Regions from separate parts of the Homo sapiens genome. Here region 2 is linked to region 1. The links come from fine-mapping of genetic effects on gene expression. A gene starts in region 1. The other region holds a variant in brackets. All regions are shown on one strand. Distances are from middle to middle.

Region 1 (15,310 bases):
GCGCGCGCGTGTGTGCGTGTGTGTGCGTGTGTGTGTGTGCGCGTATGCATGTGCTGTGAGTGGTGTGTTGTGTATGCATGTGTGTATATATCGTGTGCATGTGTGTGCTGTGTGTGAGTGGTGTCTTTGGGCATGTGCATGTATGTGTATGTGTTGTGCATTGCATGTGCCTGTATGTGTATTTTGCATTGTGTGTACACATGTACAGTGCATTTGTGCGTATTGTGTGGGCATGTGTGTGTAGTGTATTGTGTGTACATGCATGTGCAGTGTGTATGTGCTGTTTGCACATGTGCAGGTATGTGTATTGTGCATTGTGTGTACGTGCACATGTAGTGTGTGTGTGTGAGTGGTATGTTGCGGCCATGGATGGGGCAGAAAGTCTCCTGTTCTGGAAATAGGGCAGTGAGTGGAGTGTGCTGACAATGGAGAGCAGCAGCTGGCTCTGGAGAGGGATCAAGTGACCACAGGAAACCAAATGCTCTGGTCTTGTTCCTTTAATTTGGGGAGTGAGTTTTTAAAATTCAGCATCATATTTTCAACAAGACCTCTGTTCTCTATTTGCATGTGCCTAGTTCATACTCCAGGCAGTTGATCACATAATTCAGAGAGGCATTGACAGGGTGGGAGTGTTTCTGGGTAGGTGTCCAGATCCCCGGCCCTTCTCAGCCTGGAAGTGTCACCGAGGGAAATCCCTGTTTTACATGGGGCTTCACCTTTTCCCTCTGTAAAATATGAGGGCTGGACTGGCAGGTCCCCTTCCTCCTGTACCTTCTAGAGATCGATGGTTCCGGGACAACCTATTTAGAAACGAACCCGATTAAAGGCACAAAGAACAAGGTACTATGTTAACTGCAGCAGAGATTTCAACTGTAACGCTTAATACGGGAAGAAGTAAACATGTATGTGTCATTTGACTACATTTATTTTTCATTCTGTTTGAGGTAATATCTTCTTACTTAGAAGTTAGGTTAAATCAAAAACCAAAAAGCTCTTCAGACCTCTCCTAGATTAGAAAACCGTGGTGTCTCTACGGCCGGGCCCTCTGCCTCTGTCCCAGCGTGCCCTCACTCCCGCCCCTCTGCCTCTGTCCCAGCGTGCCCTCGCTCCCGCCCCTCAGCCCACGTGGCCTCCCACCCGATGCTGCCATGCCCCAGGGACTGATCCGGGGCCCGCCCTTGTGAAAAGCAGATCCTTCATAACTTCTTCAAAAACATGAAAAAATGGAAAGGTAATAAAAACTTTGAACTTAGCAGAGGCCCACTTTCTAAGCAATGAGGGAAGTTGGGTAGAAACCGGGCTGCTGGCCCAGACATGGTGAGAAAGATCCAAGGTCACTTCTGTAGGGGCTTTGTGAGGAGCATGGACTCATCTTCCTGAGAGTGTGGCCTTCGGTGGGTGCCAGGTGCGTCTCCCGGGCTGGAGGCTCAGGACGTGGCGCTGTAGCTGGTGCTGGACCCATGAGGGCAGTGCCTGCCATTGGCTCAGTGACCATCCTGTGCAGAGCCAGTGCCTGGTCAAGGCCCCAACTGCCTTGAGTGCTGACCTGTGGTGGGTCACACACATTCCCCAGGTCGTCGCACTAAACGGCGTTTTCTCCACTCTTTTTCAGAGAGGAAGCAGTGCATTGGTGAAGGCAACGTTAGGTGTGATTTCCATTCCTGCTGGGAGACCCGGGACGCAGCCCGGGAGCTTCGTCCAGCCTGTGGATGGAGCCTGACTGGCTGCAGATGGAACTTCTGTGTCCTCCCACCCTAGGTGGGCTAAGGTTCTGCTCTCAGAGCTGAATTGACAGGAGGTGTGTGTGTGTGCTCACTTGTGTGCACAAGCATGCGTTTATGCATGTTTTCACGCAACCAGAAGAGCCATTCGTGGGATTTAGCCATTTCGAGGCACCTAGAAGTTGAGGCAGCCAGCTGTGCAGCCAGGTGTGACTGTTACTGGCAGCATTGTATAAAAGACACGACTCAGCTGCCGTAGGGAGGACTGGGTTGTCTGGAAGTATTAGGCTCATTTTATATTTGTGTCAGAAGAAATGTCTGACTTTGGGGCAGATGACACGGTGGCTGCGGACCAGGCATGGCTCCCTAGGTTGAAATCAGGGAAAAGCTAATAGTATCAGACAGATATGCTTTTTCTTTGGTGGCTGCAGGATTTTTGCTGGAAAATGCACTATTAATCAGCACTTGTCCAAGAAAGACCCATCCATTTCTGTTGTCATTCAAGCCACAGTTCCTGATTTACTCGGCAAGATACTGGGCCAGTTCAGTGTCTCTAGCTGAGCCTGACCTCGGGGTTTGCGTCTCGAGTCTGAAATCCTGTTTAGTCCTCTGTGCATAGTTTTGTCTCATTTTAACGACTGCATCTTCTTGGCACATTTATTATACTCACAACTGAATGGCACACAATAGCCTTGTGTTAATAAAAGCTACCGTGGCGCTGTGGGTGAACCGCTGGGTTGAAGTCCGATGGACTCTACGATGCAGGCATCCAGAAATATGTTGTAACTCTACCTGGCTCCCTGCCAGCCTGGCCTCCTCCTCTGGGAGAGCTCCTGGCATGGTCCCAATGTGTACCTGCATGGGAACAACAGCTGCATGGGCCAGCTGTTTCGGATCTAAAGATGTGCAGTGAAACTCACATTCCCAGATTCACATCCCTCATGTTTATTTGGGTCATCATGGTTTAGCATGTTGTATATATGTCTGGAGCACTTCATACACCTCTATCCACCACAGACACTCTTAATCACAGTTCTGTAATAATAATAAGGCAAACTATACGGCAAAGAGAAGCATGTAAATATGTACCAAATCCTTATGAAGTTGTAATTGTTTATATGTAAAAAGTATGTATATAGGAACGGGAGAAGGTGCAAGGAATGTGCTGAATAACATCCAAACTGCATCGCGTCTCTGCCCCATTCCTGAAAGCACACATCTAGTTGGAGCGTCAGTTCCTCTCCTTAGATATCATTGTTTTCACTCGTCTATCATAGGCACCTTCTTTACATCTGATTACAATACCCAGCATTTCAGAACTGGGTTTTTGCCCCCAAAAAGGTAAATATGAGCATTTATCACTGACTCCTCCTGGTCCAGTGAGCAGCAGCAGAATTCAAGTATTTAAAAATAAGGTGCATTTCTAAATTGCAGGCTATACCTTCTTTTCCAAACCAATGGGCTAGAGTGAATTTCCTCCAAGTACTTGGGCTGTCTTACTGCTAGCTCTTCTAACAGGGGAAGTCTGTATGAATGCATCACCCCCTAATAAGGCAAGAGGAAGGACCCTGAAATGTTGCCAGAAATGTACTGTTACATCAACATTTACATTATATTAACATCATCACACTCTGTGTTCAACACACAGAACAACATAGATACTTTAGTTTGTCTAAAGTAAAAATCCACATAAATAGCAGATTCCTTTGTTGACACCAGTGTGTTGTTTACCTTGTGCCCATGGTCCAGATTTTGAGCTGGAGAAGGACTATGGCTGTTCCTTAAAGTCTCTGCCCTTGCAGAATCTGTAGCCTTCAGGATACCCCGAGTGCCTTACAGGGCTTGTGAACACCGATACTAGAAGTCAAAAAGAAGAGAGTGCCCAAGTGTGGGTTTGGAGGCACTGACGCATTCGCCAACTCACCGTCATCCCATCCTTGAAACCCTGAGAGAGAGTGTGTGTTTTATCACAGTAATGGAATTCAGTTTAGCCTCAGGAAACTCATATTGTGAATATAGGTATCAAATCATATATTTGTTTACTGTATATTTTTTAAAAAGCTTTATTGTAAATTTATGCAAAAACTAACCGGGCCTGTTTTCTTACGGCGGCATGCCAGGTAGTGTGTGTATTCTCCCAGGCACTCCCTTCATAGTCACCCTCTAACCACGTGACATTCCGTTCCATGCTAAGCAGTATTCACAGGCCTAAAATAGGTTTGTATGGTGATCTACAAGATTTTACAAATATTTTTGTATTGTGATTCCTATGATATATACCAGAGAATTTTTTACTCGTTTGTAAATTATTGTACAGTTTTAATAAAAAATGTTTTAAATCTTAGACGATTAAAGTCCCCTCAAAGGTATTAAAGTTTGAACTGAAAGCCGTATGAGCCATTTCTGCACTTCTGAGTTCATTCTCTGAACAGTGCCTCTGCACACCAGAAACGGAGTCCGCGCCTTCCGCCCACTGTGGAGGAAAGCCCCAGTTCTCACCTGCGAGATCACCTGGAGGGCAAGCTCTGCAGTCGGGTGCCTGGCAGCACCTGGCTCCGGTCGACCACCTGGGAGGCTCCCTCCTGTGGCTGTTGGTCAAATGTGAACCATGGAAGAGATCAGACAGTTAGGAAAGGGACGGAACTTCTGCACGTGCATAAGAACAGTTGGTGATATTTGCCGTGGACGGTCCCACACAGGTGAGTAACAGACATTGCATTAATCATTTAGGGGAGGGGGAGCCCAGAGGAGGACGAAGGGGTGGGAAGCTGCTGGACCTAGCTCTGCTGGCTCGGGCCCCGCCAGTACTCGAGGTCATGGTGACTCAGTGGCCAAACTCTGGCTTTGAAATGCGGACTGCGGTAACAACGCAAAGGCCTGAAGTCTCTGGGTTCGAATTCAGCTGCTGCAGGCTGGGTAGAATGACAGATGGAGTGACAGCATCGCCCGTCACTCCTGTCTCGCCCCAAGCCTCTAACTCGGCTTTAAGGGAGATCAGCAGCAGTTTGCGTGGGCGGGTACACCCCACCCCCGCGCGCCCTCCACACTCGCCCAGGGTTTCGGAGTCAGGGCTTTCTTGTCTGGCGTGGGACGGCCCAAGGGGCCTGGAAATGTGGCCGGGATTCCCACAGCGGTTTCTCCGGTGCGCGCTCCCCGCCCGGCCTTCCCAGCGCCCAGTGTGTCCCGAGGGCGAGCAGCCACGCGTGGCCGGGACTAAGCGAGCACCCAGGGGCCAGAATGGGGCGTTCAGCACCCGCTACGTGGACAGAGCCAGCTCCGCGCAGCGCTGCCGGGCGGCAGGAGGCGGGGGGGGAGGGCGCGGCCTCCAGGTCCGCCCAGTGCACCTGCCGCGCAGACCTCGCTACAGGAGGCTCCGAGACCGGATTCTGTCGCCCGCTCCTGCCGTGACCGCGCGGCAGCCTCAGGAGCCCGCGAGGCCTCTGGCCCGGCCCAAGCTTGGCTGCGTGTTCCGCTGCGTGGAGGACGCCTTCGAGAGCAAGACGCTGCCGCTGGACGCTCTGGGCGGCGGCCGCCCGGGCCCTCGGGTTGGGAGGCGAGTCTGCGCGGCGCGCGGAGACCCCTCAACGGCCGCAGCAAGTCCCCGAGGGCAGCCCGGCGTGGCCCAGGCCCGGGACCCCCAGCAGGTAGTGGCCGCGGGACAGAGGCCGTGGGCCCGGGCTCGGACTCCCCGAGACCCTCGCACCCGGAGGACGCCGGGCGTGGGGCTCCCCCGCTCCCCCCTGCGGGGTCCTCCCTATCCGTAAAGGTCCTGAGCCTTCTGGGTCCTGCGACCACCCCCCACCCCCGCGAGGTCCCGCCCACCACCGCGTCCCGGTCCCTGGGGAGCGCGTGCGCCTCCTTCTGTCTCTCTCTCTCTCTCTCTCTGTCCTATTCGGGCCCCTCCTGCCCTCCGTCTCTCGCGGCCAGCGTGGAACAGCCTCGCGGGGTCACAGCCTGGCGCTCGGACCCTGGCCCGGGTCATCTGCGAAGGAGCCGGCTTTGGCCAAGGTGCCTTCCTGGACGGGTGTGGTTCCCAGAGCGTCGCGGCCCGGGGTTGACTGGCTCGGAATCCCGGGGCCTTGGGCGCCTCGCGTCTCCTGGGACCTGGGTTCCGCGCTGGAGGGCAGCGGGGGCGCGGGCGGGGCCTGGCAGGACGTGGCCGGACTCTCTCCCTCGCCTCCCCGGGGTGCAAACCCCGCGCACATCAGCTGGAGCAGGTTGAAATCCCCACCCAGCGCTCGTCCGCGGGTCTGCGCGGGGGCCCGGGGTGCAGAGATCAGACCCTGCAGCGGTTCCAGCGCTGGGGGGGCTTTAAAGCGAAGGAGTGGCTGAGGGCGGGGGCGGGGCTGATGGGCGGGGTGAGGCGGGGCTCGGGCTGGGGCGGGCCCTATCGGGGGCGGGGCCTGCCGGGGGCGGAGCCGGGGTGGGGGCGGGGCCCAGCGGGGGCGGGACCGGAACGGAGCCGTGCGGCCCCGCGCGCTCGCAGTCTGTCTCCCGCCGTCCCCACGCACGCGTCCCGGCTCACGCGTCCCCCCGCCCGCCCGCCCGCCCGCCCGCCCCCGCTTGTGCCGCCCCTACCAGAGACCCCCAGGAGCAGGATGTCCTTCCAGGGCAAGAAAAGCATCCCCCGGATCACGGTGAGCCCGGTCCCGCTTCGCCCGGCGCCCCCTGCCCGCCGCCCGGAGTGGGGCCTGGACGCCGGGCGGACCCTCCTGGTCTTGTGCGTGGGTGGGGGGTCCCTGCCTTTGCGTCTGGTCCCTGTCCTGGCGCCCGCCCTTCCCTGCTCGGCTCCTTCGCGCCCCAGGGTCCGAGAGTCCCCGCTAGCGCCGCGCAGACCCCCTTAAGGAGCGGGGCGCCCAGGCCCGGCCCGGCCCGGCCCTGCCCGGCCCTGCCGGGCCCTGCCGGGCCCTGCCCGGCCTTGCCCGGCCTTGCCGGCTTCCGGGAGCCTCGGCTGCGCCCGGGGAGAACCCGGGGCCGGGCGGCCTGTCCCTCGGAGCGCTAGCGGCTCCTTTCTCCCACGGCGGTCGGGTGGCGAGGCGGGCGGACGCGGCCCTTTGTTGGCCCGGGCTGGTCCGGGGCGCGGGGAGATGCCGTTCCCGGCGCAGCCCGTGGGTCGCCCGCCCCTTGGACGCACTGGCGCTGCGTCGGGAGCTCTTTGTCCGAGACAAAGCGATTTAGCCCCGGCCGCTCTGGCCGGAGTCCCTGGTGGCCCCGAACCCTTCCAGTAACCTGGGTTCAGCGACTCCAAGGAAAGCGAGCGGTCAAGGGCCACTGGCCGGGAACCCTGGCAGCCCCTGAACCTTCGAGAGCAGAGACCCCTCCCCAACACCCACACGCACCGGCGCGGGAGGTCCCGCTCTGCCAGAAACAAAGCCTCCCCGCTCGGGCGGGGGGAGATGGGGGTGGGAGGAAGGAGGCTTCGGGACCCGGCAGGACCTGGGCGGGGGAGTCCATGGGGTCCCAGACCCGACTCTGGACTTGGCCTCGGCGGGAGGGCCGTGGGGTCTGACCTCTGGCATTAGCTCGAGCCGTGGGCTGTGGGCTCCACTCCCCCAGACTCTGAGCGAGGAAGGAGCCCTCCCCTCTCCAGATGGGAGGGGCTGCTGCCTCCAGAGGGTTCTGCCCGGCTGGGTCTGGTCTTGATGCAGGAGGTCTTGCCAGTCAGCTGGCATGTGGGGGTCGAGTTTGGGGGTGGCAGGAGGACCCCTTCCCAGGGGAGGTCAGGCAACCATGTCAGTGCGGAGGGGCAGCTGCTTCCCGGGAACTTTCACCTCCATCCGGATGAGTGCAGTAAGAAGAGCACAGCCCCACACCCCAGCTGCGTCTCCTCTGGGTTCCAAACCCAGTCTCAGTGCGGGTGCCTGAACACTTGGGCGCCTATGAGCAGAGAGCCCAGACCACACGTCTCCTCAAGCCTCCTTCTGCCCGGTTGCGTTTTCTAGGGCTTCCTTGAAAATGCGTGGGTCCCCTGGGAGGGGTGGAAAGTGAAGAAGAGGGACAGCACCGGGAAGGCAGCCAGGGCCTGATGCGGCCACAGAGGCTCTGCAAATGCATGGTGGTGCCGGGTCAGGGCTGAGCCTGGCGCTCAGCTGGGACTGGGCAGGAGGAGGAGAGGTGCAGCGGCTGGGAACAGACAGCTCTGTAGACCAAGGGTCTAAAACTTCTTCCACAACCAGCCCGAGAGTAAATGTTGTCAGCTTTGCGGACCACGCTGTTCCTGTCTCAGCTGCTTGGCCCTGCCAGGAAAGCAGTCCTGGACATTTAGGAAGTCGATGGGCACCACTGTGTTCCAACAAAACTTCATCTGTGGATGCTGCAGTGTGAACTTCATAGAATTTTTGAGTCATGACATACTCTTGTTATTGTTTTCAGTGAATATACAAGAACGATTCTTAGCCTAGGGCTGTATGAAGAGAGGTAGAGGGTTGGGTCTGGCCTGTGGCATAGTCTGCCAACCGTTTGTAGACTATGGGGTAGAGGTTGACAAGTCACTGGGATCCTGAAAATACAGCCCCACAGTTAGATGTCAGCAGTGAATCCTGTAATGGAGTTCCTAGATAATGAACTCCTTCTCATTCTGAGAGTTTTACCAATTGTGCACTTCAGTTTAATGCTCTTGGCTTCAGACTGACGGTGCGTGAAGGCTCTAGCCCCAGGCTAGGGCCCTGGCCACCTATGGGTGGGCCCTGGAAACCCAGAGCAGGCGGCCGGACCTCCCTGTTAAATGCAGACGGTCAGTCCTGCCGGGTCAGTTGCAGGGCGTGCTGAGGCGCACGCCAGACGGTGGAGGGAAAAGCGTTGCCGAGTCCAGCCCGTGGGCGCGTCCTTCTCCACCTCCTTTCACTCCTTTTTTGTGTTTCTCTCCCCCATTCTCCAATGAGGTCAGATCTTCACCTCTGACGGTCATGCAGAGTCCCATCAGTGACACCCTACTTTCTGCCTAATCTTCTGCTTCCCGGCCATCTGGTAGGATTCTTAGAAGTGGATTTATGACTGCCAAGCACTGGAGTCAATCCCTGTCTAACGCCACAGCTCTGTGCTGCCAGGGCTGACCTACAAAGAGCGGGCCTCACCAGCCTGACGCTCTGTGTCCCACTGGGAGTGCGTCCGAGCTGCACTGGAACCGAGGTCACCCCATCTCTTCCCCATCACCCCCATGGCCTCTTGGTCAGCAAGTCCTGCCCTCCTGACTCCCAGCCTCTCTGGAATCCACTCTCCTCCCGTCCCTTCCCATAGTCCTGTCCCAGAGCCCCTCATCTCACTCAGAAATCACCCCAGCAATGATCCGGCTCCCACTGTTACCTGTCACAAGCTACTTTCTAACACAGCAGCCAAAGGTGATCTCTTTAAAACATCAAACCAGGATTGAAACCTGCTTAAGGCCCCCAGTCAGGGGGCAGCCATGGAGTCCCCAGGCCTACATATCCTGCCCCTGCCAAGCTCTGGGCACCGACTTGCCTCTGGCACCACCACCCCACCAGAAGGTTCCATCCCTCGGCCTCCTCCCAGGTCTGCTGATGGCAGCTCAAGCCCTTTCCTGCCCCAAGGCCAGGCTGCTTCCTGGCTGGAACGCTCGCCATGTCTGCCTTGCCCCTGTATCAGCCACCCTGGCCCCAGAGGTCCTTCTCCCAGCCCCTCTCTCATGGCCCTGCCATGGCGCCCTCACTGTGCTCTGCGCATTCGTCACCGACTGTGATGATCTGTGCACGTGTGTTTTTGCTGCCGTTGGTCTCCCCTCAGTGGGAGGCAGCCTCCTGGGGTGGGGACCATGCCTGTGGGGGCGCTGTCTGCCTCCGCCTCCTGGCACCATCACTGGTCTGTAGTGTTTGGGTGGAACCAAAGTCCAGCTCCGTCCGCTCCCAGCCTCCTCTGCGTGGGTGGAAGACAGGGTGGAGGAGAGCAGGATCTCTGAGGCTGCACAGGAGGCCATGAGGCAGCGTTCGCCTCCCACCTCAGGCTGGGGCTCCTCAATCCAGTGGTAAATCAGAAGATATAAATATGACCTGTGGCACTACCACACTTTCACCAACACGGGCTTTGCCCTCAGCGAGGTCTGAGCAGCAGCTGTGGGGCGTGCGTGGCACTTCCAGGGGCAACTGTTTTTGAGCGCCTGGTGCCACTTCTTGGGGAATAGTAAGCCGCTGCAGGCTTTTGTGCTCGTTTTTACGTCTAGAAATTTTGCCTGAATGTTTCAGTCATAATTTCAGAGGAAGGAGTTGCACCAAGAGTGTTACTGAGTAACTCAGTTTGGAGAAAAATTACCCTTTGTTGTTCCCGATAGAGTGACCGCCTTCTGATCAGAGGTGGGAGGATCGTGAATGACGACCAGTCCTTTTACGCTGATGTGCACGTGGAAGATGGCTTGATAAAGTAAGTTTCCGCCGAAAATGAAAATACGTTCCCAGCTCGTGTGTACACGCTGGTCACGTGGTATCCAGGCAGTTGAAAGTATGTTCCCAGCTCGTGTGTACACGCTGGTCACGTGGTATCCAGGCAGGTGAAAGTATGTTCCCAGCTCGTGTGTACACGCTGGCCACGTGGTATCCAGGCAGTTGAAAGTATGTTCCCAGCTCGTGTGTACACGCTGGTCACATGGTATCCAGGCAGGTGCAAATAGTTCCCAGCTCGTGTGTACACGCTGGCCACGTGGTATCCAGGCAGTTGAAAGTATGTTCCCACCTCTTGTGTACACACTGGTCACGTGGTATCCAGGCAGTTGAAAGTATGTTCCCAGCTCTTGTGTACACACTGGTCACGTGGTATCCAGGCAGGTGCAAATAGTTCCCAGCTCGTGTGTACACGCTGGCCACGTGGTATCCAGGCAGTTGAAAGTATGTTCCCACCTCTTGTGTACACACTGGCCACGTGGTATCCAGGCAGTTGAAAGTATGTTCCCACCTCTTGTGTACACACTGGTCACGTGGTATCCAGGCAGGTGCAAATAGTTCCCAGCTCGTGTGTACACGCTGGTCATGTGGTATCCAGGCAGATGAAAGTATGTTCCCAGCTCGTGTGTACACGCTGGTCATGTGGTATCCAGGCAGATGAACATAGTTCCCAGCTCGTGTGTACACGCTGGTCACATGGTATCCAGGCAGGTTAAAGTATGTTCCCAGCTCGTGTGTACACGCTGGTCACGTGGTATCCAGGCAGGTGAAAGTATGTTCCCAGCTCGTGTGTACACGCTGGTCACGTGGTATCCAGGCAGGTGAAAGTATGTTCCCAGCTCGTGTGTACACGCTGGTCACGTGGTATCCAGGCAGGTGAAAGTATGTTCCCACCTCTTGTGTACACACTGGTCACGTGGTATCCAGGCAGGTGCAAATAGTTCCCAGCTCGTGTGTACACACTGGTCACGTGGTATCCAGGCAGTTGAAAGTATGTTCCCAGCTCGTGTGTACACGCTGGTCATGTGGTATCCAGGCAGATGAACATAGTTCCCAGCTCGTGTGTACACGCTGGTCACATGGTATCCAGGCAGGTGAAAGTATGTTCCCAGCTCGTGTGTACACGCTGGTCACGTGGTATCCAGGCAGGTGAAAGTATGTTCCCAGCTCGTGTGTACACGCTGGTCACGTGGTATCCAGGCAGGTGAAAATAGTTCCCAGCTCTTGTGTACACACTGGTCACGTGGTATCCAGGCATTGACTTTTGGGTGAAATCCATGGGAGAGGTTTCTTCTTTTCTAAACCCATCCTTGGCAGCAGTAAGCTGGTGGCCACTGTCAGAGCCCCGGCCTTTGGTGAGGGCAGAGGTATGTTGGGTGGCTGTGGGCGAAAGCAGGACACCAGCTTCCACGTTTCTTTGTTCATCGCAGCACTTAGTATGGTGCCTGGCTCATAGCAGGTGCTTCCTAAATACTGGTGCCCACATCTATTAGCGCACCTGCTTCCGTTTGTCAAGCTGCTCCGTCCTCTAGTCAAAAAAGTACCAACCAGGGACCTGAGTGGAAAACCACAGGGCGTGGCGTCTGCGTGAGGCTGGACCCTGCAGTGACCGTCCTGAGCTGCGCTGAGTGATGCTTTGCTCCCTGGCACTCCCGAGGAGCTAGTCCAGTGAGTGGCCGGCCGTGCTGGCCTTTTCCTCGGGGTCTGGAGCTCATGCAAACCCTTTAGCTCTGCTGCATTGCTGGGAGCCCATCTGGGCTCTGACCTGGGCTCCCTGTAACCAGTGAAATCTCTGCTGCTTTCAGACAAATCGGAGAAAACCTCATCGTCCCTGGGGGCATCAAGACCATTGACGCCCACGGCCTGATGGTCCTTCCTGGTGGCGTTGACGTCCACACAAGGCTGCAGATGCCTGTCCTGGGCATGACACCGGCTGACGACTTCTGTCAGGGCACCAAGGCAGCGCTAGCAGGAGGAACCACCATGATCTGTGAGTGTCTGGGTCTCCTCCTCTACAGGGGGCAGCCAGCGTCTGCTGCCCCTCTCTCTGGCCAGGTGTGTGTGGGAGGAGGAGTGTCGCCTAAAGGTGCCTTTCTCAGCTGTCTGCCTTTATTGCATCTGTCTGAGAACCTGGAGTGCTTTTCTAATCCCTGTGTCTCACTCTGGGTGTTTCTGTGTGGCCAGTGCTGGAATGCTCCTGGGATTTCCAGGACTGGAAATCAGTGACTGACGTGTGTCCACTTGTTCTTCCCTGGGCACTAGTAGCCAGCTCGGAGTTGGGGGTTGGAAAACTCAAATGCCTTGGGCGAGGGGAGGGGTCATGCTGTCTGAAATGCCAGATACATGTTTGACCTTGAGCCACATGCCTCGGAAGCTTCATATCTGGAAGGTTCTTGCTCATGTCAAGAAGAGTTAAGGATGGAGACTGTATTTTTAGAAAAAGATAAAAGCAATGCTCATTATTATCCCATCAAAAAATAACCCGAGTTGCTATTTCTGTAGTGCTGGCTGCGTGCCCGGCACGGGCTCTATCCTGACACCCATCGGCTCACATGCTCTCCTCCTAAAACCCTCTGAGCTCAGCCCAGCTGGGCTCAGCTAAGCCTAGTTTAACAGGTGGGTGAGTGGAGTCCGCCTGCCCACCACGAGCACGTGGTGAGCTCAGGAGGCAGGACGAGGCCTCAGAGCCTAGACCTTGACTGCACTGTGTGGCCTTGGGTGCCATTCACTCTGCGGCGTCCGTCTGGCACAGACATCGCTGCTGTGGTTGAGAACGGGTCTGAGGAGCCTAGCTGAACCTGGTTGTATGGTTTTCTAGCTGTGTGACTCCAGATAAACTCAGCTGGCTTTTATAAGTCACACTTTGTTGATCTGTAAAACAGAACACTGGCCTCATGAGCTTCTGAGGCATGTGTGAGTTAATGCACGTCAGTTGCTTTGTGTCCCTGGCACACCGGGGAGGGCAGCTCTGAGGACCCTGAAACACCTCGCGGGACATTTAGCCATTACCAAATCACAGCTTGGTTTGGTTTACTCAGCCACAAAGGGAGAAAACACCAGCAGCAGCCCATCTTGCAGTCTGAGGAGACTGGCCACTGCTCGCGCCCTTCAGGGGGCGGCCCAAGCCGGTCAGGACGTCTGCACAGTCGAGACCACCTGCCTCGTGCCAGTGCCAAGGCACCCGGCCAGCTGTGGGTCCCCGCGAAGACAGAGAAACACCACAGACACGAGGCTGGCCTCTATCCTGCCTCTGTCTTCCTCGGCCTGCAGGCCCAGGCTGGCACTGTGGGTGGCTGCAGGGAGGCTGGGTGCCCACTTCATCTTGTTGGGATGAGTAGGGGCCCGAGGGAGGGCTGTGCTGGAGGAAGGCATCCCTGGCGGGTGCGCCCTCCTGTCCGACCACCTGGCTTGGAGCTGTGTCTGGCTGCACCAGGAGAGGCCAGTGAGCAGTGTTCGGGCCTTGGGTGTGTGGTTGGTGGGGCAGCAGCATGATGGCTGTGTGCAGGGGGCAGGATGGCCCCTTTCAAGTCTTGTGGGGCACTCGGGAAACCAGCCCAGCTCCCACTGTTCTAGGAAGGCACCCAGAGGTGGGGCCCAGCACCTTGGACAGCGCACTGGCCCAGCCTGGCCCTCGGGGTGCCTCACCCAGCCTGACAGGAGCTGGAGGCAGGGCAAAGCCCCGACCTCCTGTGCTCCTCCAAGTGCGATGTGGGAGTAGGGATGGTTTGGGGTGGGGCTTTTCCTTTCTCCCCTCTCCCTTCTGTGCTCAGAGGGTGGCTGGGGCACTTGGGACAGAAGGTTCCTCTTTGAACAAAGCAATAGAACGGGTTCGTGGCAGCGTCATCCTCTCTCAGGGGCCGGTGGCCTCTGCTGTGTCTCCCTCAAATGGTCCTCTGGTCTCTTGGGAACATGAAACAGAATCTCCCATGGAGGAGGCAGAGGTGGGAACCAGGGACCAGTGGGGGAAGCTGCTGACCATGCTGCCTTCACAGTGGACCACGTCTTCCCCGACACGGGTGTGAGCCTGCTGGCGGCCTACGAGCAGTGGCGGGAGCGGGCGGACAGCGCGGCCTGCTGCGACTACTCCCTGCACGTGGACATCACCCGATGGCATGAGAGCATCAAGGAGGAGCTGGAGGCCCTGGTCAAGGAGAAGGGTGAGGGTGGCTGGAGGGGCTGGAGGGCGGGCATGGAGCCTGGTGGAGGAGCCTCTGCCCTGACCCTGTGTTCTGCCGATGGTGCTGCTCTGCCCTGGGGGCTGGTGTCCAGGTTTGAGTGGAAGTTGGAGAAAAGTCATTTGAAGGCCCATCCCACCTTCAAAGGCTCTAGACCAAGAGGCCTTCTCTTTCCCAATCCGAGGGACCCATCCTGGAATTGTCCTCCTGATGAAAAGATGCAGCAGATCCGTCGTTTCTTAGAAGAGAGGCTGCCCAGGGTGGAAGAGCAGCAGTTCCCCAGTCTCCTAGCATCTGGGGATCCTTTCAGAGGGAGACCCTTTTAAATCCATATCTCTTTGTTGTCACCAATGCTAAAACAGATCAGTCTATAAACAAGTTAACATTTTTCCCCACAAAAAACCCTGAAGCTAAAACTACATCAGAGTTTCATAGTGGGTTTGACAAGTGGCATATCTGATTATAGCCGATCTCTCCTAATCTGAGTCCGGCCCACAGCTTCCAGCCTGGAGGTGGGGGCGGGATGGGGTCCAAGCAAGCCCAGGAGCCTGTCAAGGCCCTGGCACTCCCAGGGATGCCTGCTACCCGTCCCCTACAGACCTGAAGGAGGCAGGGGCATTTCTTCAAGGCCATTCCTCTGGGTTCCCATTCCTCAGAGGGTGACGGTCATCACATAGGTGCCCCTTGATGTCAGGACCCCTCACCTCCCTGCCCGGGGGCTGGTGGAGCCCGTCAATCCTCAGTCCCTGGGCCTCACTCCAGGCAGCTGCTCTGCCACCCATGCTGTTCTGTGAGTGGACTCGGGAGGCCTGTGGCCTCGTGTCTCAGAGCGGAGGTGGAAGCAGGGCCTGCACCTCCCCTCACCCTGTGTTGGCAGTGCTGGGGCCTCTGCTCCCCAAGAGCCATGCAGGAGTCCTCAGTCCTGTGCCCACGGGGTAGTGTTGCAGGGACAGCACTGCGCAACCCAAACATGACCTTCCTCAGACACTCGGGGGCAGGCCTCAAACTCCAGGTCACATACAGGTTG
Region 2 (15,310 bases), 44 kb before region 1:
TTGCTGCGGCCCCGTCCTCTGGCTCCCAAGGGGCTTGGCTAACAGGGACCCTGAGCAATTCCGTAACATGCTGTCTTCCTTTCCTAGACCCTTGAGACCGCCGGCTACGTGAAGAGCGTGTTAGTAAGTATGGTCAGCGCCCGCTTCCCCACGCCTCCGCTCCCCACGCAGTTGCCCGTGGGACCCATTCTGTGCCCAGGGCTCCTCACAGACCAGACAGAAGCGGCCGCGGCAGCCTTTCGGGTGGATTTTGTTGTTGCAGTGCCACCTGGCCAAGGCTGTGCACGGGTGGCTGACGCCCTTCAGTGTGGGTCAGAGAGGAGCCAGGGACACCCACTGATGCCCCAGTTGAGACAGCACCAGCTTGGGACGATCATGTTTCTCAGTTAATGGCCAGGGTCAGACGGCTGCCCTTCTCCGGCTGCTCACCCCACCATGCCTTTCTCCCTGGCCAGCACAGACAGGCAGCCGCAGCCCAAGAGGTTCACCATCACGGCCATGAAACCACAGCATGGGTTCCCCGGAGAGCAGCAGGACCCTGGTCTCCTTAGTATTTTAAGGGCGCCAGTCCCCACACAGATGTGGACGCCACCCCTGCAGGGTCCGGAGGGGCCCTGGCCATGAGTCCCCTTCCAGCTTCCCACAACTGTGTGCCCCTCAAGTCACCTGCCCCGTGTGGCCCCTGGACGCATTTAGAAGGGGAGCTGGTAGACCATTGAGCAAGACAAGCTCAGAGCCCACCTAATTGGGGAGCCGTCCGTGTCACCCTGGAGACAGGAGCTCCCCGAGGAGCAGAGCTGGAGCCAGGGCCTCCCGCTGTGGTGTGGGGACAAGCCAGCCCAGACACCGTCTTCCCTGTCATCCAAATGATGGCACACGGGCAGTAAACCGTGGACTGAAACCGGTGGAGCTGCTCTACCACTTACACAACCTCTTCAACTGGCTTCCGCAGGAGCGGGACAAGCTGTTAAGATTCCGGAAGCAAAGAAAGAAAATGGCAAAACTTCCCAAGGTAAGGAACAGCACACCGGCACGTGCGGAGAGTACGCCGGGTGTGTGCGGAGAGGACCACGCCCGCGTGTGTGGAGAGCGCTGGTGTGTGCGGAGAGGGGTGCGCCGGTGTACGTGGAGGGCGCTGGGTGTGTGTGCCGAGGACCGCGCCCACGTGTGTGGAGAGTATGCCGGGTGCGTGTGGAGAGGACCGCGCCCGCGTGTGTGGAGAGTACGCCGGGTGTGTGCGGAGAGGGGTGCGCCGGTGTATGTGGAGGGCGCTGGGTGTGTGTGCCGAGGACCGCGCCCGCGTGTGTGGAGAGCGCTGGTGTGTGTGGAGAGCGTGCTGGCGTGTGCTTAGTAGGAATCAGTCTTTGGAGATGAAAAAACAATTTTATTATTTCTAAAAATTGTTACTGTGAAATGACCAAAATAGGACCCAAAGAAAATATTCTGTTTATCATTTTTAATAAACTTGTTTCTTTCAAATTTCCAAGAGAAGATAGGAATTGGTAACAACCATACCAGCAACACTAGCAATGAAGAGGTGCCGGCTCTGGTGTCCTCACTGCCTGTGTAGGGTCCGAGTCCCCACGACCTGTGGGATGCACGGCTCTGAGGACGGGCGGCTGAGGCTGCTCACACTCACCCATCCTGGCTGTGCCACACACCCCACGCTCGCCTGTCCTGCCGTTCACCGTCCTCGGCCACACTTGCAGGCTGTGGCAGCCTCATCCACAGGCCCCACAGGGCAGACCCACGTCCCCAGGAAATGTGAACACCTGTCATCATTTCTCTACAGTAGAATCCTTTGTGATAAACCTATGATTTTTATTAAGGGAGGCTTTGGAGCAGCTGCCAAAGGACCTAACTCATCTCCTGCTTTATGTTGAGTGTGTGTGTGTGTGTGTGTATGTGTATGTGTGTGTGAGTGCGTGTATGTGTGTACATGTGTGTGTATGCATCTGTGTGTGTGTGCATGTGTATGTGAGTATGAGTGTGTATGTACATGTGTGTATGTGTCTGTGTATGTGTGTGTATGAGTGTGTGTGTGTATGTGTGTACATGTGAGTGTATATGCATCTGTGTGTGTATGTGTGTGTGTGTATGTGTGTACATGTGAGTGTATATGCATCTGTGTATGTGTGTGAGTGTGTATGTGTATGTGTGTGTGTTTGTATGTGTGTACATGTGAGTGTATATGCGTCTGTACGTGTGTGAGTATGTGAGTGTATGAGTATGTGAGTGTGTATGTGTGAGTGTGTGTGTGTGTTTGTGTGTACATGTGAGTGTATATGTGTCTGCATGTGTGTATGTGTGAGTGTGTGTGAGAGTATGTGAGTGTGTATGTGTGAGTGTGAGTGTGTGTGTGGCTTGTAAGCTGTCAGCAGTGTTTTCTCGCTGTTAGACTGTGAGATGCTCCTCGGTCACAAACACTTGCCCTCTGAAAGGTGGAGAGGAGGAGCTGTCCAGGCTCTCCCCGCTCGGGACCCCTCTGGGATTTGGAAGTGTCCAGCAGACGCCTTGGCCCTGTGAAGGGAGGACACAGGGTGTGGGGAGGCACACAGGACAGGGGCCAGTGGTTGGCGGGGAGTAGGGGAAGTCGGGTGGCCCTGGGGTCCCTGAGGGAGTTTTGCTGGAAGGTTCTGGCAGAAGAACTGGGAGGAGACCTGGAGGCCACTGTGGCCACGGCAGAAGGGACTGAAGAAGATGGCGGGCTTTCCATTTTGTAACACTTCTGAAGGGGACCCAGATGAGTCCCTCTTCGATTCTTGAAGGCAGGGGTGAGGGGGCCCTAAAGATGCAGACGTCGGGGTGAACCTGGAGGGTCCCCAAAGGCAGGGCCTCTCACACCAGCTGGCGGAGGACCCCGTTTTTGTTTGTATTCCAATCAGTCAAGGACTGAAACTTTAAAAAATGGAACAGAAATGCATCACTGGGAATGAGATCACACAGGGAAGGCACCCATCGTCGGTTCTGTTAACCCGGGTACCACCCTCAGGGAACCGCAGGGACGGTGCCCCACGAAGGGCCTCATTCCCCACCACCAAGGGCAGGGCCAGGACCCGCTCACCCACGGGACTCCAGGCCCCTTCCCCACCCGCCCTGCCAGCCTTGCCATAGAGCGCCCCTCACACCCAGGCCACCTCCTCGGCCTGTGCCAGGGACAGAGATGGGAGTGTGTCGCAGGGTGGGGCTGCGGCCCCCACCGTTGGGCAGCGGGAGGAGGCGGCGGGAGGAGGCGGCTGTGCCTGGGTCTGGTTTGAACTGACACGTCGCATTTTGGTCACAAGCCGGTGGTTGTGGAGACCTTCTTTGGATACGACGAAGAGGCTTCCCTGGAATCCGACGGCTCCTCCGTCTCTTACCAAACAGACAGGACGGACCAGACCCCGTGCACCCCGGACGATGACTTGGAGGAGGTAACGAGGGTCTCCTGCCGGGTCCTGGGCTTGGAGGAGGTAACGAGGGTCTCCTGCCGGGTCCTGGGCTTGGAGGAGGTAACGAGGGTCTCCTGCCGGGTCCTGGGCTTGGCTGGGCATGGGCTGCCGGCTTTTCACGGGGAAGCCCTTCGCGGCCCTCACTGGCACTGACCCGCTGATAGCTGACTCGGGCACGGTGAGAAGCTCCCATGACATGGCTTGGGGTGTGGGCTGAGGCCCGCTCTTGCTCCCATGAAGGCCAAACCATGCCTCCTTCTGCCACTGAGCCTACGCCCCTTCTGCATAGGGGTACGGTGAGCTCTCCCTTCCTAAGGGGCCTCCCCAGGAGGGTCTGAACCACTCATCAGGGAGTTTGGTCTCAGTGCCAAGAGCACATTAGGGTGAGGGGTGTTGAGCAGGAGTTTTCTTTCTGATAACAGCACAGGTGTGTCTGCCCACCAGCCCCTTCTTCCAGAAGGACGGCTACCCTCAGGCGCAGGCAGCCATTTCAGCACCAGGTCGGGGCTTGGTGTTGTGGGACCCAGACCCTGTGGCTGTGGGACAAGGAGTGGGGTCTGCAGTCAATGGCACAGCCAAGGATTGGGCCTCCCGTGGCAGACCCTGGAGGGTGGCCCAATGGCCATAGACCTGTTGAGGGATCTAAGACATCCTCTCACAGCCTCAGGTGCAGGGTTGGGCAGGGGAACTGGGCCAGGCCAAGGCTTCTGGGCTCAGTCACTCCTAGACGTGGCCAACCCTTCCAGCCCCGGGGGTCCACCGGGACCCTTTGAAGGCAGCAGCAGGCTCACCTGTCTTCTCCCTGGGGTGACGGGGGGCACTGCAGCTAGCAGGGTGAGCCTGCAAGAGTGCACCTGGGAGGAGACGTGCTGCCTGGGGTACTTTACCCCCTTCACAAAGCCCAGCTTTCTTCCCAGGACGTGTTTCAGCAGAGCAGAGCGTGTGCAGGCCTGGTTGGTAACAGAGGGTCTGCTGGGTCAGGGCAGCCTGGCTAGCAAGCAGGAGCCCCAGCTGAGCCCCTGGCCATGGCCACCAGCCCAGCAGGCTCACCCTGTCCTCAGCCGTGCAGCCGACTCAGCTCCCACCCCAGGGCTCGGTGCTCCCCTCCCCAGGGAAACCTTTCTCCAAACAGCACTGAGTCCCCAGGCAGCCGCCCCTCCCTGCACACTGGAGCAGGTCCCCTCCCTCATGCTGCTAGAGAGACCCCCCCATACACCATTTGATATCTGGGGAGAAGGGAAGCCCCGGGGCCCCGCCATCGGAGGAGGTGCTGGCTACTGACACTGTGTCTCTGTGCGTGTGTGGCATCCGTGTCTCTCCAGGGCATGGCCAAGGAGGAGACGGAGCTGAGGTTCCGGCAGCTGACCATGGAGTACCAGGCCCTGCAGCGTGCCTACGCTTTGTTGCAGGAGCAGGTTGGAGGGACGCTGGACGCAGAGCGAGAAGTTAAGGTCTACGTGACTTCCACCGCGCGTTCCGGCCCCCCTCGTGCCTTCCCGCTTGACCCCGTGGCCTGGGCTGGGACACCCCCCTCACTAGCCCTCCTGGGCCCGGGCCCCTCCTCTCCTGCCCTTGCCTGCAGTCCTGGTGGTGCCCATGGAAGCCGATCAAAACCAGGGATTGGGGATCCCGGTGCTGGGAGTTGGCCCAGGTGGGAGGGACTGGCCCAGAGCGGTGCCAGGCACAGGTGTGAGTAAGGGTCCTGGGGGAGGCGGGGTGGTAGTGGTGGCAGGGGCCCACAGCGCCCAGGGTGGGCCTCCTTCCAGACCACCTCTTCCACTCTTGGCAGCATGGCGATGGCCCGTGGCAGCATCGAGCTCGGTGTTGAAACTTGTGGAGGTCATTCATCCTCAAAGGCTGAGCTCACACAGGCTGTGCCTGCCCCGGCCCCGGCCCCGGCCCCTCTCCCCCGGCCTCCCCACTGGGCAGCACCCCAGCAGCCGTGTCCCTCCGCCCACTTCCCTGGCTCACCTTAGCGTCGTCCCCCAGGAAAGGCCTCAGTGTGGCTGGCGGGTGCCCTCTGCGGGCCGTGGAGGGCAGTGCAGGCACCAGGCCTCGTGGGGAGAGCGTGGGCCATGGGTCGGGGGTCCTCTTGCCGCCCCACCCTCCCTTACTGAGGCTCGGAGGGGAAGCCGCTGGAGGACCTGCACCTGGTACCCCTCACAGCGAGACGGGCTGCTTTCCGGGGGAGCTGAGGGGTTCTCCAGAGCAGGCAGCTGTGGGGTGTGGGGTTCCCGTTGGCCTCCCCACCCCAAAACCACCCTGCAGGGCCAGAGATGCCAGTGTCTGGCAATTCTGCAACTTAGGGTGGCTGAGCTGGGTGGGGGACGGACCTCTTGGGGCGAGGGGAGAGTGTCCACAGAGCATCCCCAGCGTGGTCCACGCTAGTGCCCCAGGGAGCCGCCAGCCTCATCCTCTGTCCACCCAGACCGCCCTGGTGACGTGGCTGGTTTCCCTCCTGCCTTCCTGGCACCTCATTGGGGACGTCTGTTGTGAAAACTAAGAGAGAGCTCCACCCCTCTGTGCCCTCCTCCTGTCCTGAGTCGGGGTGGGGGGGGCTGGCCTTGGAGGGGGCGTCCCCTCCTCAGGCTCGGAGAGATTTGTCTCCGTAACTGGGGACTTTAAATATCGCCTCTTTCACTTTGACTTAATTTTTGCATGACCCTTGGAGAAAGGAAAAAGTCAAGGCCTCGGTTCAGAGCATCATAAAGCACAGCAGCCCCGAGACATCCCAGAGCCTCATGGGCCCAGCCTTTCTCCCTCACAGCGGGGGCGGGGCAACAGCCGCATCCTCCTGGCCAAGCTCGCCAGGAGCTGGAGGAGCTGGAGAAAGCATCCTGTCTTCCCTTTTTCCTGTCGGGTGCCAGAGAAACATTTGCTCGGGGGCCACATGGAAGCAAAGAACTCAGAAGCTTTGCTTAGAGAGTAAAAATGTCCAAACTGCATGTAAAAAAAAGTTTAATGTCATTTAGAATCAGAGGAAAATCTGATGCCGAGAAGTGCTGCATGGTTATTTTAAAAACTAGAAGATACAGAAAAGATTAATGAAGAAAATAGACTAGCCGGCATCCCACAGTCTGATTCTGTATTATAATTGGAAATGTCACTCCTCACTGTGGAAATCGAGGAAGCCTCAGGATAAGGAAGGGGGCAGGAGAGGACAGGCGTCTGAAGACATGGACGTGGGCCCATCCCTGCCACGGTCCTGAGGCTGCAGGGGGCCCACAGCCCTCTGTGGGCTCCGTTTCCCTGTCCGGAAACAGGGTTAGGACTAACTGGAATTCCCTCTCTGCTAAGCATTCTCCAACCCAAGGGCTCACATCCACGATTGTGACCCCTTAAGGGAGGGAAGAGGCTGGGGTGATGGGAGGAGCCCAGGACGGCCTGGGGGCAGGGAGCTGGGACCAAGCACTCGGGGGCGGGCACCACAGGTCACGCCTTCGCCCACCCCCCACCCCGGCTGATGGATCCTCTGACCCTGCGTCCTGTCCCGAAACGCACCTCTCCCTTGGAAGCTATCCCCAGAGAGAGCAGGAGCCACTGTGGCCCCATGGTTCGGAGCCACCACAGCAAAGTGAATTAAGGGAGGTGGCTCAGACCTCGGCTAGAAGCCTCGGTGGCACTCGGGAGGGACTTCACAAACCAGGATGCGGACGGGGGAAGCGCCAGGGCTTTTCCTGTAGATGTGGGGCGGGCTCTGGGAGTCAGTTAAGGAACACAGAATTCAGGAAGGCAGTGAGCCCTGGGCTGAGGCAGCTCCCGCACAGGCAGCCACACCACCCGGGGCTTCCAGAGGGGCAGCTCCAGTACAGGCAGCGGCACCACCCGGGGCTTCCAGCGGGTCCATGTGGAGAGTCCCTCGAACAAAGCCCTCTGGCCGGCACCTGGCAGGGCTGAGCACACGCTAGGCCTCAGTCATCCTCATTGGCTGTGTCATCCTGTAAACAAAGATTTCTCCTAACAGGCTCTCAAAATCAACCTGCAGGATTTCCCCTTAGAATCTAAGTGAGATCTCTTGCTTCAAATAAGCCTTAAAGTTCTCCCTCCAGGGCTGGGCGCAGTGGCTCACTCCTGTAATCCCAGCACTTTGGGAGGCTGAGGCAAGTGGGTTGCTCGAACTCAGGAGTTTGATACCAGCCTGGGCAACATGGTGAAACCCCGTCTCTACAAAAAATACAAAAATTAGTGGGGTGTGGTGGTGCATACCTGTGGTCCCAGTTACTCAGGATGGTGAGGTGGGAGGATCACTTGAGCTCGGGAGGCGGAGGTTACAGTGAGCCAAGATTGTGCCACTGAGCTCCAGTCTGGATGACAGAGCCAAACCCTGTCTCAAAAAAAAACAAAACAGTTCTCCCTCTCTTAGAAAGCATCTCTTCCAAAGGAAGGGCGAACAGTCACTTCTCAATGAACTGAACCAAAAGACAGACCCTTCTGACGTC[C/T]CACGAGTGTGTGTGCTGTCTGTCCCAGCTTTTAGAGAAAATTTGATGTATCTTTCCTCCCGTCCTACAGACCCGTGAGCAGCTACAAGCCGAAGTGCAGAGGGCACAGGCGCGGATAGAGGACCTGGAGAAGGCCCTGGCGGAGCAGGGGCAGGTGAGCCTGCAGCCATCTGCACGGGCGTGGGGGCACACGTGGGTGGGAGGTATTTGGCTGTACCTAAAGACAAGCTTCAGTGGTGCGATCATAACTTTCTACAGCCTTGACCTCCTGGGCTCAAGCCATCCTCCCACCTCAGCCTCCTGAGTAGCTGGGACCACAGGCATGTGCCACCACGCCCGGCTAATTTTTGTATTTTTTGTAGAGACGGGGCTTTGCCACGCTGGCCAGACTGGTCTTTGGTGTTCTGCCACATCACGATTTAAACGTTGGTTTATGAGTTCCTCCCTCAGTGTCTTTATTTCTTTCAATTCCATTTGCAAGGATATGAAGTGGATTGAAGAGAAGCAGGCACTGTACCGGAGAAATCAAGAGCTTGTGGAAAAGGTGAGCCCCGAACCCCTGGAGGCCCTGGCAGGACTCGCTCTATGCTCCTGGGGGTTGCAGTGGTCCCTGCGGGGCTGAAGGATGGAGCGAGGGCTGAGGCTTCTGAATGGCTGTCCCAGGCCCCTTCTGCTCTGCTCCCTCCTGCGGGACCCCATCAGGAGCCCTGGGGAGGAGGATGGCCTGGACAGAGGGAGCTGGGGCCTGTTCTCCTGGGTCCTGTTCTCCTGGGTCCGGGCAGGCCCCTATCTGCAGCAGCATCTCCATTCGTGTCCCGTTGTGCTGATGGTTCTGTGGGTGGGCTGGTTAGAGCATCGTGACAGAGGAGCTTTATTGAGACCACTAGAATCATCCCCCTGGGAAGCCTGGCTGGGTCAGGGAAGTCTCCTTCCAGCAACGCTTGTGGGGAAGCTGAAGTCCTCGGGGAAGAGCCCATGGACCAGCCTGGCTGAGCAAGTGCGTGTTTGAGACTTCGGCAAGGCGTCACCTGGCAGGCCCAGGTCCAGGCTCTCTTGGTCCCAGATGACAAGAGGCTCCTGAAGTGCTGCCCCGCCCCCACCCCCACCCCCACCCCCACCCTGGCCCGGGCTTTGTGGTCTGGAAGACTATCAGACGTAAAACAGATCAGAACATGCGATGTGTGGCCAGGCTGCTCTCAGTGGCCTTAGCTTCTGCCTGAGGTGCAGGGAAGGGAGTGCAGGTTTCTCTCGGCACCTCCCACCACATCAGGCCCACCTGGCTCAGCTGCTCCCTGCACTGGGTTAAAGAGGGAGTCACAGCACCGAGGGCCCTAGACTTAGGTCTGGGCAGTCCAGGGCCATCCCAAGAGGGGTGCACCTCACAACTGTGGGAGCAGGTGATGTGGCATGAGGCAGGGGCGGGGCTGGCTACGGGTCCAGGGGCAGGAAGGCCAGCAGGGCTGTCATTACCACGCACAGGTGAGGGGTGCTCTGTGTGACCCCCACCCCACTTGTCCATGGGCAGGGACAGGTGTCCTGAGGAGGCAGCGATGTCTCACGCTGGCAGGTGCGGCCCTCTGGGGAGAAGCTAGGGTAGCCTGGCTGATGAGTCTGATCTGTGCCAACAGGACAGAGCTTCAGACAAACAGAGGCGTCCAATGCAGACTCTGCACTGCTGCCAGCCCAGGGCTGGTCGTGCCCTCTGGGGGTCCTGCTTTAGGCTTGGTTTGCATCTTGAATGGCGAACGACACCCCCATGTTTCCCGTGGACACACGGAACATCTCTTAAATTAGAAGTGCGTTTCCACAGGGCTCAGCACAGTGCTGTGTGTGCCACGTAAATGCCGGCACAGGCAGAGATCCACGTGCACTTAAGGGCACCCACTTGAACACGCACACACGTAAATGCCTGCGTGCACACTTGAACACGCACACACGTAAATGCTGGCATGTACACTTGAAGACATGCACACAGAGATGCTGGCACGCACATGGAAATGCTTGTGCACGTACACACATGCGCATGTGCACACTTGGAGCCATGCTTTTTTCTGGCTACACTGGGTGCAGATCACATTCCTGGCCCTGCAGGTGTTCCACGGCAGGCCCACTGTGCAGCAGTACACAGCTGGCCCTGCAAGGGGGTCCAGCTCCCACTGAGCCGGCTCACTCCAAGGATGCAATGCTTCTGAGTTTATCTTGGTCCCCTGAGCATCAGAGCAGGTCCCTCAGTCCCTGGAGCTCAGCTTCAGGGGATGGACACAGCTGTCTGCCCCTGGTGGCCCCTGCCCTCATGAGGCTGCTGAGGACACATGCCGTGGGCCGTGTCACTTGACCCTTTGGAAGGGGTGGGGGACTCCTGCATCCGGTTTACTCGTAACTGGTTCCGTTTAAACAGCTCCTTAATTAGCCAAGTGAATTCCGGTGGCCAGGCAGCCGTGGTACCCGCTCCTTCCATTGGGCACAGCCTGGGCTCCAAGGGGCACCCGGGAGCCACCTGGGACATTTACCCTCCACGGCCTCCCTTCCTCATCCTAGCTCAGAGCCCCGCTAAGGCCCCCGTGCTCCTGGCTTGTGATGTACAGCCCCTGCTGGAGACGTTTATCCTTGACGGCCTCCCTTCCACATCCCTGTCCAGGGGCCACCCAAGCTCAGGGCCCCGATATGATCGCCAGGCTCCTGGCTTGTGGTATGCGGTGCTGCCTGCCCAGCCCCACCCACCACCGGATGGCTAGGCTATCTCACTAGGACAAACCCAAACATACCGAGGGCTGTGAGGCGCTTCCAGGGCTGGGTACCAGGCCAGCCGGCCTCCCCGGCAGCCAGCAGCTGTCCCGTCAGCCTGGAGTTGACCTCCCAAGACCTCTGGTGAGAGAGAACCAGACCCCTCACCTCATGCATCTTTTATGTTGCAGATCAAACAAATGGAGACGGAAGAGGCTCGGCTCAGACACGAGGTGCAGGACGCCAGAGACCAAAACGAGCTGCTGGAGTTCAGGATCCTGGAGCTTGAGGTAGCTGAGTGGATGGCCAGCACTGTGGCCTGTGGCTGTGTCAGGGATCTAGTCCTCAGCCTTCCTAACCCACACAAAGCCCTGAACATGAACATGAACATGAACATGAACCCAAAAGGCTGCGTCAGGGAGGAAAGAGGCAAATGGCCGTAAACCGCCACCTCTTCATACCGGCCGTCCAAACATCCAATGGGGAACATGGGCCATGGAGCTCAGTGTCAGGCAGGGACCACCTCTTCATACGAAGGATGAGGCCAGCCGCCCAAAGCACGTGTAAATATGGGGGAAATGGCCCGTGGCGCTCAGTGTCATGCAGGGAAAACAAAACAAAAGCACGACGGGTGACAGTGCAGCATCTGCTCCAGACCTGTGGGGTGAGGAGCTGGCACGTCCGTCCTCCATCTGCCCGTCCTCCATCCGCCCGTCCTCCATCCACCCCCAAGGAGCCGGCACGTCCGTCCTCCATCCGCCCGTCCTCCATCCGCCCCCGTGGCCCTGCTGCAGCTGGTGTGGGGCTCTGTCCAGGCCTCCGCCGTCGGCAGACGTTTGTTTCTTGCCCCTGAGTGAGGACAGTGGGGGCCACGCGGTGACTGGGAGCCCTTTGCCTGTGCCCTGCCATCCCTGGCCCTGTGTCCTCTGCCATGACCTGCACAGGAGGAGGGAGGAGGGGAATCCCACGGGCAGCTCAGGCTGGGTGTGGGCAGCCACGTCGCTGTGATTGTTTCACGGCAAGGGTGGTCCACCTGTGGGGCTGGGAGGAAGTGGCCCACACAGGGGCCGCCCCTGCCGAGCACCACACACAGCCCCGAGGCCTCCGTCTCAGGCCAGCACCTGGAGCCTCACAGTCCAGCTGGAGCCGCCTCTTAAGAGTCTGCCCGTCCACTGCCGGAGGACAGGGCAGCTGTGTGGTCACTCCATGTGTGGACGACCTCGGCCACGTGGGCCTGCCTGTGGGGACAGTGGCAGCACTGCCAGCCTGTGTTCTCCAGAGGCTCCTCTGGTCAGACCTGAAGGGGATGCAACCTGCAGCCCCTCCCCTGATCCTCCCCATAGCCCCTGGGATTCACTGAGGGATGTGCCCGTGGGCTCAGGGTGGGACTGCCCAGGCCACGTGGCCAGAGTGTGATGAACTCTGCCCGGCACATCTGGGGTCAGCGAATATACAGGGGCAGTCCTTGTGGGCAGGTCCAGGTCCAGTGCAGATTCTGCCACCACTGCTGCCGCTGCGGTTTGGTTTTCATAAATGCTGTGTTGATCCCTGGTTCCATGGTCTTGGCCCGTGTTCCTCAGGCCCCAGCACAGTCCTCTTAGAGGGAAGGGATGGGAGGGGAGCGGCTCACCCTTCTGTCCCTCTGTCCTAGGAGAGGGAGAGGAAGTCACCCGCCATCAGCTTCCACCACACGCCCTTCGTGGACGGGAAGAGCCCCCTCCAGGTGTACTGCGAGGCCGAAGGTGTGACGGTGAGTCCCGCCCCTCCTGCCCACTCCGCCCCCACCTCACCCATCCCCCGCCCCACCCCCTCTCCGCCCCCGCCCCACCCCCCTCCGCCCCCGCCCCACCCCCCTCCGCCCCCGCCCCACCCCCTCCGCCCCCGCCCCACCCTCTCCACCCCCGCCCCACCCCCTCCCTGCCCCACCTCACCCCCTCCCTGCCCCCACCCTACCCCTACCCCCCCACCTCACCCCTGCCCCACCTCACCCCTGCCCCCACCCCGCCCTACCTCACCCCTGCCCCCACCCCACCCTACCTCACCCCTGCCCCCACCCCGCCCTACCTCACCCCTGCCCCCACCCTGCCCTACCTCACCCCTGCCCCTCCCCTCCCCCTCCCCCACCCCCACCACCTCCCCTCCGCCCTTCCCTGCCCTGTCCTTCCCCACCCCCTCTGCCCACCCCGTGGCCACTCACCCCTACCTGTCCTCTGTGCCTTAGGACATTGTGGTTGCGGAGCTGATGAAGAAGCTGGACATCCTGGGCGATAACGCCGTAAGTGTATGTCGCTCTCCTGGCTTGTGCATGCCTCTTACACCCACAACCCCCAGCCCAGCCCCTCTGGGGTCCAGGAGGCCCTGCCAGCCTCCCACAGCCCTGCCATGGGCCACCCTGCCTGAGACCCTCCACTAGGCCCAGAGCCTGCTCAGAATCGGAGCCTTCCTCACACTGCTCCAGGGCCCACTGGGGCCTCTGCTGTGCACACCTGGTTCTTCCAGCTGATGGCACTTCCCATCACATTGCCCAGCTTCTGGGATCTCTCAGCCCTTCCATACTTGCCATGAGGATAGGGGGCTGTTGCTCTTAGACAAACCAAGACCCTTAGGGGTTCCACTTCCTTGGCTTGGGGGAAAAGCAGACTCTATAGATAACTCCTAAATTTCATTTGGGGCAGAGTTCCAATTTCTATAGCAAACTCCTTGAAAGAATGTTAATTACTGAGTGGGCAAAATAATGCACCTCTTCATCCCAATTTTCATCCGCCCATTACTAATCCTCTGCTCTCCATCCATTTATTCCCCATCAATGCACCATCTACCTAGCCCTTCATTCATGCTCTGTCTTATATCCATCCATCTATCTATCCTGTGTAATCCATCCATCCATCCTCCATAATCCATGTATCCATCCTCCACAATTCATTTATCCGTCCTCCATAATCCATCTATCCGTCCTCCATAATCCATCTATCCGTCCTCCATAATCCATGTATCCGTCCTCCATAATCCATGTATCCGTCCTCCACAATTCATTTATCCATCCTCCATAATCCATCTATCTGTCCTCCACAATTCATTTATCCGTCCTCCATAATCCATCTATCCATCCTTCATCCTTCATCTATCCTTCATCCATCATCCTTAATCCATCCATTTATCCATCATCCACAATCTGTCCATCCATCCTCCATCTATCTATCATCCATCATCCCTAATCCATTCATTCTCCATCCTCCATCTGTCCTCTATCCACCATCCTCCATCCATTCCTTCTCCATCTACCATCCTCTACCCATTAACCTTTCACCCATCCATCCATCTCCCATTCATCCTCCATAATCCATCTATTCATTCTCCATCCATCCTTCCTTCATCCTCCATTCATTCATCCATTCTCCAAAATCCATCAATCCATCCACCCTCCATAATTTATCTATGCATCCTCCATCATTCATTCATTCATCCATCCTCCATAAGCTATTTATCCATCTTTCCATCCTTCATCCTTTATCCTTCCACCTATCCACATCCCCTCCCTCCATCCATCCATCTATCCATCCCTCATCCTACCTTCATTGACCTTCCACTTCCTCCATCCAGTGCTCTGCATCCGAGGACTCCCTTCTCCCCTTGCCTGCCCAGCCCCTGGGGAGCAGTGAGGCACAGGGCAGGGGTACTTTCAGCAGGGAGGCTCTGGGTGTGGGTCTGCTTCTCTCAGAGCTGGGGGCTCCACTGTGGTCATAGGTGGCCGAAGAGCCACAGCAGGGTGGCCGTGGACCTGACATCTCTGGGGTCCAGTCCTGGGTATCAGCCCCATCATGAGGTCTTGGGAACTGTATTGGGCAACTCTGATTCACAGTTGGAGAAGCTGAGTCCCCAAAGGCACTGCCCAGGGTCACAGAGCTGATGTAGTGGCAGAGTTGGGGGTACCCAGCCCCACCCAGGCCTATTTCAGGGTTCCTGCCCAGCCCCATAGCTGTCCACCAAGAGTGCCACTGAGTGTGACAGCCCTGCAGTCATCATGCAGCCTCTGAGGCCATTGTCACAGAGCCCAGGGACAGAGGAGGTTGGATACTGGAGGGCTCATGGCCAGGCTTAAGCTCAGGGGACCTGTGGAGATGCTGGGGAGCTCTTGACAGTGGGCTGACAGTGGCCCTTCAAGCCTGGCTGTGCAATCAGTGTTGACTTCACATGCAACTTGTGGTTTAATCACATCTGGGTAGATTCCCTCAGTCACCCTGAAGCCACCTGCTCAGCCTCCCCAACTTAAAGTGTTGGGAGAGGTCTGTGGCCTGCCCAGCCCTGCCATGGGAGAAGGGAGCAGGGCAGGAGAGATGAGGGCACCTGGCCCCAGCCATGCAGGATGAGGTTCTTGCCTGAGTCAGGAGTGCAGCTGGCCCCCACCATGGACTACAGACTGAGCCTGACTCCCCCCTGTGGGAGACCCTGTGCAGACTTTGGGGTTGGGGGACAGCAAGAGATGCCTGCTGTTAGGGAGCTTGCACTCTAGGGAGAGAATGGCATGGACAGGGCTTTTGGAGTGAGCTGGCAAGAATCAGAGAGGCCCCACGAGCTGGAGTCAGGCAGCCCTGGTCTGGATGCAGGCTGCAGCAGAGTCTGAGAGTGTGAGGTGCCCACATCGAAAGCCATAATCACTCTACCCAGAAGGGCCACCCAGGGGCCCCTCGGTTGGGGAGGAAGCATGAATAAAACATG

The links. PIP is the estimated chance that this variant, and not a neighbour inherited with it, causes the effect.
Region 2: its variant is fine-mapped to the expression of DPYSL4 in whole blood (INTERVAL, PIP above 0.99).

What each region holds. Positions count from the first base shown.
Region 1 is chr10:132,180,745-132,196,054 of GRCh38, forward strand. DPYSL4 (dihydropyrimidinase like 4) reads left to right here and starts at 6,204. Exons shown (of 14, transcript NM_006426.3): 1 at 6,204-6,358; 2 at 10,003-10,091; 3 at 11,914-12,098; 4 at 14,101-14,265. The coding sequence starts at 6,320. JAKMIP3 (Janus kinase and microtubule interacting protein 3) reads left to right here. Exons shown (of 24, transcript NM_001323087.2): 24 at 1,613-4,114. It overlaps JAKMIP3-AS1 (JAKMIP3 antisense RNA 1), which reads right to left and starts at 6,008. Exons shown (of 4, transcript NR_184044.1): 1 at 4,221-6,008; 2 at 3,453-3,578; 3 at 717-800. RefSeq lists an enhancer at 6,923-7,424.
Region 2 is chr10:132,137,167-132,152,476 of GRCh38, forward strand. It overlaps JAKMIP3 (Janus kinase and microtubule interacting protein 3), which reads left to right. Exons shown (of 24, transcript NM_001323087.2): 8 at 88-123; 9 at 953-1,012; 10 at 3,285-3,413; 11 at 4,754-4,882; 12 at 7,941-8,024; 13 at 8,352-8,414; 14 at 10,786-10,884; 15 at 12,246-12,344; 16 at 12,816-12,875. Among named protein-coding and RNA genes, the nearest start is that of JAKMIP3-AS1, 42 kb to the right of the region's middle. RefSeq lists enhancers at 4,482-5,329, 5,330-6,176, 8,739-9,240, 9,241-9,740, 10,162-11,124 and 1 more. The variant C/T (reference allele first, on the strand shown) is at 7,871.